Linked DNA regions of Homo sapiens: region 1 is reported to be linked to region 2. Evidence: microRNA targets listed by miRTarBase, many of them from high-throughput screens and not tested one by one. Region 2 holds a microRNA gene; the other region holds the end of a gene's coding sequence.
What was found. The annotated mature microRNA hsa-miR-130b-3p reads CAGUGCAAUGAUGAAAGGGCAU and lies in region 2 at 1,435-1,456, shown strand. An mRNA with a match to its seed (bases 2 to 7 or 8) in the 3' UTR can be bound and repressed. Matches are read on the target gene's strand: a 7mer-m8 pairs with bases 2 to 8, a 7mer-A1 pairs with bases 2 to 7 and ends in A, and an 8mer does both.

Region 1: miRTarBase lists MIGA2 as a target of hsa-miR-130b-3p. Seed matches in the 3' UTR shown: 7mer-m8 at 2,198-2,204.

The regions. Positions count from the first base shown.
Region 1 is chr9:129,069,789-129,074,094 of GRCh38, reverse strand. It overlaps MIGA2 (mitoguardin 2), which reads right to left. Exons shown (of 16, transcript NM_001329990.2): 15 at 4,130-4,246; 16 at 2,013-3,848. The coding sequence ends at 3,642. Among named protein-coding and RNA genes, the nearest start is that of DOLPP1, 9.2 kb to the left of the region's middle. RefSeq lists enhancers at 1,352-2,301, 2,302-3,251, 4,199-4,306.
Region 2 is chr22:21,651,920-21,656,299 of GRCh38, forward strand. MIR130B (microRNA 130b) reads left to right here and starts at 1,385; the gene lies at 1,385-1,466. MIR301B (microRNA 301b) reads left to right here and starts at 1,062; the gene lies at 1,062-1,139. It also overlaps the pseudogene LOC107985532. RefSeq lists enhancers at 1-517, 518-1,189, 726-775.

The DNA.
Region 1 (4,306 bases), not on the chromosome of region 2:
GTTCATCCCCAGTTGATTGGGAAAAGCTCTTATTTTCAGCAAAGACATTAGAAAATTATTTTTGTTTGTTTGTTTGTTTGTTTTGAGACATAGTCTTGCTCTGTCGCCCAAGCTGGAGTGCAGTGGTGTGATCTCGGCTCACTGCAACCTCCGCCTCCCGGGTTCAGATGATTTTCCTGCCTCAGCCTCCCAAGTAGCTGGGCTTACAAGCATGCACCACCATGCCTGGCTAATTTTTGTATTTTTTTAGTAGAGATGGGGTTTCACCATGTTGGCCAGGCTGATCTCAAACTCCTGACCTCAGGTGATCCACCCACCTCGGCCTCCCAAACTGCTGGGATTACAAGCATGAGCCACCGTGCCTGGCCCCGAGAATTTTTTTTTTTTTTAGGTGTGATCATGGTATTGTGGTTATTCTGGAGAATGACCTTGTTTTTTTGTTTTTTAAGTTCAGGGGTGCATGTGCAGGATGTGCAGGTTTGTTACATAGGTAAATATGTGCCACAGTGGTTTGCTGCACACATCATCCTGTCGCCTAGGTTTTTTTTTCTCTTTTTTTTTTCGAGATGGAGTTTCGCTCTGTCACTCAGGATGGAGTGAAGTGGTGTGATCTCAGCTCACTGCAACCTCTGCCCACCGGGTTCAAGCACTTCTCGTCCCTCAGCCTCCCAAGCAGCTGAGACTACAGGCACCCGCCACCATGCCTGGCCAAGTTTTTGTATTTTTAGTAGAGACGGGTTTCACCATGTTGGCCAGGCTGGTTGCAAACTCCTGGCCTCAAGTGATCCACCTGCCTCGGCCTCCCAAAGTGCTGGGATTACAGGCGTGAGCCACTGTGTCCAGCAGTCCTATCATCTAGGTATTAAGCCCAGCATCCACTAGCTGTTCTTCCTGATGCTCTCCCTTCTCCCACACCCTGCCCTCCGACAGGCCCCAGTGTGTGTTGTTCCCTGCAGTGTGTCCATGTGTTCTCATCATTCAACTCCCACTTACAAGAATGTGACTACCTTGTTTTTAAGCTCTGCTTAAAGGTTTAAGAGTAAAGTACATGTCTGAAACTTAGGCTAAAGTATTTTGGAAATACATGAAATAAACATGGCAAAATGTTGCCGGGAGCGGTGGCTCACGCCTGTAATCCCAGCACTTTGGGAGGCTGAGGCGGGCGGATCACGAGGTCAGGAGATCGAGACCATCCTGGCTAACACGGTAAAACCTCGTCTCTACTAAAAATACAAAAAAATTAGCTGGGCATGGTGGCATGTGCCTGTAATCCCAGCTACTCGGGAGGCTGAGGCAGGAGAATGGCGTGAACCTGGGAGGCAGAGCTTGCAGTGAGCTGAGATCGTGCCACTGCACTCCAGCCTGAGTGACAGATCGAGACTCTGTCTCAAGAAAAAAAAAAAAAAGTCAAAATGTTAATTACATGACCAGAAGTGTTGGTTTTATATAGTTTTTTCAATTTTTCCATACATTTGAAATTTTTTTTTAAAGTTTCTTTTTTAAAAACCTGTAAAATAAAACTTGTGATTTCCAGCTGCCCATGAAAACTTGTAACGATCCGGCAGGCTTGGACCTGTTCCCAGTGTTCCAGCCCCTCCCCCTGGCTCTCACAGCTTGGGGGGTAACAACCTTTAAGCCTGTGAGTCTGCATCTTGGCCCGGTCCAGTGCCTGCATTTTACAGATGTGGAAACTGAGGGCCAGTGAGAATCGACTTCCCTAAGATGGTGCCTGAGCAGGGTCCACAGCCAGGCTGCCCACCTTGCATCCATGGCCTTGAGCGTGGCACTGGCCGCTCCCCACCCTTCCCCGCGGACCACCGGGGCCCTCCCTGCCTAGGGATGGCTGGATCCTGTCAGGCAGTCAAGTTGCCCCAAGTAGGATCACAGCCCCCACCAGGCTTCTCCTGACCTTTGTCCTCCTGGAACCTTCACCCACGGCACCCCAAAAAGCAGGTGCCCTGCTCTGCCCCAAGAAGCAAACAGCCATGCACATAACCAACAACATGGCAAAGTGGAAGGAAATCGTCTCAATTGTTTATTCGACTCACAGTCAGTGCACACACTCTACCATCCAAAAGTCGAAGCTGTGACAATCGACTGCTACAGGCAGTGCATGGATGTGTAAACAAACACAAATGAAAATGCAAATCAGAGTGGGCGGGGCCAAGGCCCACTGTTACATTCACAGCACAGGGTAAGTGCAAAAGAACAGGATGTCAGGATGGGGGGCGGGGAGCACAGGGTCCTTCCTGCCCTGGAGGCTGCCTCCAGGCATCAGCCTGGGAGGTGGGTTAGTGCCCATGGAACCCTCCTGCCCAGGAAGCTGCCTCCGGGCATCAGCCTGGGAGGCGGGTTAGTGCCCATGGATCCGGTGTCTGGGAAGGGGCCCACAGAAGATGGGCCACACCCAGCATCATCTCCTCTCTGTGGTGCGCCCTCCCATCCCCAGACCCCTTTCCCATTCAGGGGAGAGGGGCCCTGGTCACAGGAGCCAGTCCTCTGACCTCCTGAGTGTGGAAACCCAGGAGGGGAGTGTGTTTCTCCTGCAGGCCTCTCAACCTGGAAAGGGCAGAGCCACAGCAGAACGCGTTGGGGCCACAGACACTCGCTCAGGTGAAGACACTGAGAAGACACTGCCGGGCTGACAGGACCCCGCGGCGGGGGGACGTCGCTGCTAACAGGACTCTCTGCAGGCCCAGGGGAGGCTCTGCCCCCATGAGGCCCCAGGAGCGTTTGTGCGTTGAACTGAAGGCAAAGTGCTGGGCAGTTTCTTGTCCTAATGAAGGTGGGGAAGCTGGTCCGGCCACATACATCCTCTGACCTCCCCCAAGTGGTCCCCGGGCCCACAGGTGACAGGGGCCTGAGCGATCCCTGGTCTGAGCCCCCAGCTCAGAGCCTAGCACCACCCAGGGAGGTCTGGGCTCATGGAAGGGGGATGGGCGGGGGCAGGAGGGCCCAGCCCCACCTCCGCCCGTCTTTGGTGGTGACAGAGGTGGGAGGAGAAAAGACGATCTTTGGTAGGGCGAGGGAATGTCAAAGGACACTGTCAAGGGCCCAGTTCCTGCTCAGAAGAGAGCACAGGAGTGGGAGGCCCACCTCTGCCCCATCTCTGGATGGCCCAGGCCTGCTGCCCACTAAGGTGGCCCCACTCTCCTTCTCTGGAGTTGCAAACTCTCTGAGAAGGCGGTTGAGGTGGGGAGGGCATCAGGACAGGCCAGCTGGATGCTGAGACCATATAGCCACAGGTGGCTTCTAGCTCAGGACACTGTGACCTTCACCACAGGGCTCTAGGCCCCATCCTTCACCTCCACCCTCCCAGCACCCTTGTCAGCAGCCCTGGAGCGATGGGAGGTTTTGGGGTCCCCCACCTGGGGCATCCTGGCTCTGCCTGTCCCAATTCTCCACAACAACCCCCTCTCTCACAGCCTTTCTCTCCCACAGGCCCCACTGGTCCTGGCCTCTGCTTCCCCCAGGAACCGTTCTTCTCCATGGAAATGTCCCCTCTGGGCCTTGGGGACTCCCAGATGATGGGGGTGGGGCAAAGTCAGGGGCAACGGCCCTCAGCCACCACAGCTGTCAGATACCAACCCAGGGAAGGGAGGAGGAGCCTTCTCTCTGCCACCCCCCAGCCCGTGCCGCCTCTACTGCAGCTCCCCCAGGGGCCCATTCTCTCGGGGCAGCGCCCCATTCACGCCTGCGCTGCTGGCCGCGGGCACCCCCAGGTACCCCAGCAATATCTCGCTGCGGCGCCGGGACAGCTGCAGGATGTCGTCTGCCAGCGCGGGCAGTGACGTGTAGCGCACATTGTCCAGGTCGAACATGTCCCTCAGGTACTGCACAATCTGGTGCTGGGGGAGCAGGGCTGGTGTCAGGCCTGGCCCAGCCACTGCCCACCATGATGCCCCCCAGGTTACCTGAAGTCCCCTTGTCCACCACCAGAGCCCCAGCCGGTCCTTTCCATCCCCAGGCTCCTCCCTCCCACTGCTTCCTCTGGACCCATGTGGGTCTGGCTCTGCCCTCTCTCTGGGAGCAGGCCCAGGCCCAGGCCCTCATCCCATTCCTGGCACCTCCCAGGGCGCCTGTGCTCAGGGCAAGGGTCAGGAAAGAACGAGAACTGCTCTCTGTTTACCTTGAAGAAAGCACAGACTTCAGCAAGCTGAGGCTTGGGTCCAAGGAAGCCGAAGGCTAGGACAGGGCTCACATGCTCCGATACGGAGTAGAAATGGGAGATGAAGCCATCAGGCACCTGCGGTGGGCACAAGGCTGAGGGGCCAGGCGGGGCCCAGGTAGGATGAGGGCACCAGGC
Region 2 (4,380 bases):
AACTCGCAGAGATTGGAGCTGAGAAAAGGCGGGCAAAGTTCCTTTTGATAAGTTATGAATGGGGAAAAAGTGTTTGTAGAACTCATTGTTAAAACCACGGAGCCCGAGACTCGGCCGGCGCCGGGCCAATCGGAACCCGGAGGCTATTTTGAAATCTCTCCCGTCTCAGCCAACAGGCATGCAGGAGGCGAATCCCCGCGCCAGCGCCGGCCAATGAGCGCAGCGCTATGCTAAGGAGTCGGGGGCCCGGCCCCTCCGACTGTCAGCGGGTTAAAGATGGAGCCGGCAGGCGAGGGGCCGCCACGAGGTGCAGGGTCGTCTGGACGGGGACCCGGGGGCAGACGATGGCCGGGATCCTCTTCCGTCTAACCCTCCGCGTCCTGACCGGGCCCTGGGCGGAAGGGATGTCTGCGTGAGTCAGCTGTGTCTGAGGAGGGGATCCTGGGCTGGGCTGGGCGGCCCTACTCGGCGGGTCAGGCGGAGGGGCGCGGCCGGGATCCCGGGGGCCCTCTTTGGAGCAGGGAACTCTAGAAGGGCGGGGAGCCCCCATCCTCTGCTCCACTCTGGGCCTCCAGGCAGAAGAATATGTTAGAAAAGAATCCAGAGTGTATCTAGTGCAGGGCAAGGGGCCAGGGATGGAGTCGTCAGCTAGAAGGGGCGCGTCGTCCCGGGGTGGGGCCGCCCTTTTTCTCCTGGAGCCGCGGGCCGAGTCAGGGCGCAGGGTCGTCGGGCTGTACCCACCCCGCTCCGGGCGCTAGCCGGCTTTGGACTGCGGCTGAGTGCGGGTTCGTCTTTGTGTGTGCGCCCCCTCCCCTGCGTGGCCCGTCAGCTCCTGCTCCGGGATTGGAACAACCCCCTAGTCTGGGGTTTCTCCTCCACCTCAATCCGGAGCGTTCTGGGAAAGGCCTGGGTGTCCTGGGTTCTGAAGACCCCAGGGACGCACCCCGCTGCGGTCTCCTTCCCTGCCCGGATGGACTGGACGGGGGCTCTGCCCCACCCACCCATCCATGGTTGAGCTTCCCGCCCTGCGTGTATTGGGGGTGGTGGGGTCCCCCCTGCTGGCCGCAGGTGCTCTGACGAGGTTGCACTACTGTGCTCTGAGAAGCAGTGCAATGATATTGTCAAAGCATCTGGGACCAGCCTTGGGGATCTCCCTCCCTATAACCCTCACCTCCCACTCCCCAGGCAGGGCCCCTTGGGCTTGCAGGCCCTCCCCTCCCCCCTACCCAATTCGCTCCCTTCTCCATGGAAACTTGAGATTCTAGACAGGCCTGGGCCTCTGGGGTCAGAGGGCACCCTTTCCCCCCGGGCAGAGGCCCCGCCCCAGCCAGCCTGCATTCCAGGTCTCAGATCCCTGCAGACCACCCTGGGGGAGGCACTGGCAGGCCTGCCCGACACTCTTTCCCTGTTGCACTACTATAGGCCGCTGGGAAGCAGTGCAATGATGAAAGGGCATCGGTCAGGTCCAGCCTGCTACCCTGGGAGGGGGAAAGGGAGCTTGCTGCCTCACTCCACTTTCCAGTTGAGAAGGTTGAGGTGCCCAGAGGGTAAGTGTTTCCACTGATTAGGCACAGATGTGAAGCTGGACTGGACCCTCCATCAGAGGATCAGGTGGGTGCAGAGCTGGAGAATCATCCCTAAACTCTCCATCCTGTCATGGCTGGACAGGTGCAGGAGCAGACCTCCCCAGCTTCTGAAAAGCTCTTGTTTGAAGGTCTTTCCACATTGGGTCCCTGGGGTAAGACTGGAACTCCAGGCCTGGTCAGGGTCTTAGGGGAAATACACGCCCAGTCTTTTGCATGGAAGATCATTCTAGGCCTGGCTTGGGCCCAGTCCTTGCTGGAAGCTTGAACAGGGCCAGGCTCTGGAGAGAATGTTCTTCTGGGTGGCAGTTGGGTAAGGGGGTAAGGCAGGCCTTTCAGGAGGCAGCCTTCACCCCAGGACGTCAGCTGGAGTGGTACTATGGACTGACCAGTTGACTGATCAGTTGAGTGGACTCAGCTGGAGTGGTACTATGTGAGATGGATGGGTGGACTTGGGATACAAAGCCTGCAAATGATGTCTACCAACCATGCCAGTTTGTTCTCTTACAGAGAGGTGTGCCCTGAACCTGCAGGAGGGACTGAGGTGTCTAACATTCCAACCGTCCCAGCTGGAATACAGGGTTGGAGCTGAACTTCCAAGGAGCCTGACCCCAGGCATGCTTGGATGACCACCTCTACCATCAAGACCTGACACGGTGCAAAAGGTTTCTACGTGCCCAGTCACAGTCATTCAAATCTTCTTTAGAGGAGGACTAGGTTTCCAGATGGGCTTTTGGGAGTTCCCCTCATCCCTAGCTGGGCGCATTGGGAAACTGCTTTACCCCTACCCTGGGGAGAGAAGCCCTGGCACCCGTGGGAGGAACAGGGGCAATGACACATGCTCCTTGGCTTCCTAGTCCTGATCCCTTGGGGTTCCTTGATCCTAGGGTCATCTGACTTAGATCCATCCTCCCTTCCTCTAGGCACCAGGGGCCATGGCTGGAGGTGGCCACCCCTCAGTCCTGTACAGATTCTGTACCCACTGGCTGGAGACCCCCATGCAGCTGTCTCCTGCTCTTGCTGCGGGGAGACTGAACTCAGGGCTCTGCTCACTGGCTCCCTCCCAATGGAAGCCTTCTCTGGGCTTCACAGCATTGAATATTCCTCCAGAACAGCTTGTTAAATCAAATTTTTTTTTTTTTAGATGGAGTCTTGCTCTGTCGCCCAGGCTGGAGTGCAGTGGCACGATCTTGGCTCACTGCAAACTCCGCCTCCCGGGTTTAAGCGATTCTCCTGCCTCGGCCTCCCGAATAGCTGGGACTACAGGTGCTACCACACCCAGTAATTTTTGTATTTTTAGTAGAAACGGGGATTCACTATGTTGGCCAGGCTAGTCTCGAACTCCTGACCTCATGATCTGCCCTTCTGGGCCTCCCAAAGTGCTGGGATTACAGGCATGAGCCACCGCACCCGGCCTAAATCAAAATGTTCTCCCTGTGGCAGAAGTGTCCATTAGACTGGGAGCCCCTGAGGCAGAGACAACTGTCATTTAAAAAATCTCTGGCCAGGCGCAGTGGCTCATGCCTGTAATCCCAGCACTTTGGGAGGCCGAGGCAGGTGGATCACCTAAGTTCGGGAGTTTGAGACCAGCCTGACCAACATGGAGAAACCCCATCTCTACTAAATATACAAAATTAGGCTGGGCGCAGTGGCTCACGCCTGTAATCCCATCACTTTGGGAGGCTGAGACAGGTGGGTCCAAGGTCAGGAGTTCAAGACCAGCCTGGCCAAGATGGTGAAACCCCATCTCTACTAAAAACACACACACACACACACAAAAATTAGCCGGGTGTGGTGGTGGGCACCTGTAATCCCAGCTACTAGGGAGGCTGAGGCAGAGAACTGCTTGAACCCGGAAGGCAGAGGTTGCAGTGAGCCAAGATCGCGCCACTGCACTCCAACCTGGACAACAGGGCAAGACTCCCTCTTGAAAATATAAAAAATAAATATACAAAATTAGCCAGGTATGGTGGCGCATGCCTGTAATCCCAGCTACTCAGGAGGCTGAGGCAGGAGAATCACTTGAATCCAGGAGGGAGAGGTTGCGGTGAGCTGAGATTGCGCCATTGCACTCCAGCCTAGGCAACAAGAGGGAAACTCCGTCTCAAAAAAAAAAAAAAAAATCTCTTGGCAGTGTCTGACAAAGAGGAGGGGCCCAATAACCCCCCACCCTTTTTTTGAGACGGAGTTTCGCTCTTGTTGCCCAGGCTGGAGTGCAATGGTGCAATCTCGCCTCACCGCAACCTCTGCCTCCTGGGTTCAAGCAATTCTCCTGCCTCAGCCTTCCGCGTAGCTGGGATTACAGGAATGTGCCACTACGCCCGGCTAATTTTTGTATTTTTAGTAGAGACAGGGTTTCGCCATGTTTGCTAGGCTGGTCTCGAATTCCTGACCTCAGGTGATCCACCCGCCTCGGCCTCCCAAAGTGCTGGGAGCTGTAAGCCACTGTGCCCGGCCTACACTTTTTAAAAATACAAATACAGGTATAAAGTGTGAAGCATGGGTTACTGGAATGACATGATGGGAGGGTGATTAGGGATCTGCTCCACCCTCAAGGGGGTGCTTGTCCTGTATGAAAAAAGGCACATCCTGGCCAGGCACGGTGGCTCACGCCTGTAATCCCAGCTCTTTGGGAGGCCGAGGGCGGGGGGATCACCTGAGGTCTGGAGTTCAAGACCAGCCTGGCCAATATGGAGAAACCCTGCCTCTACTAAAAATACAAAAATTAGCTGGGTATGATGGTGTATGCCTGTAGTCCCAGCTAGTACGGAGGCTGACGCAGGAGAGTCTCTTGAAC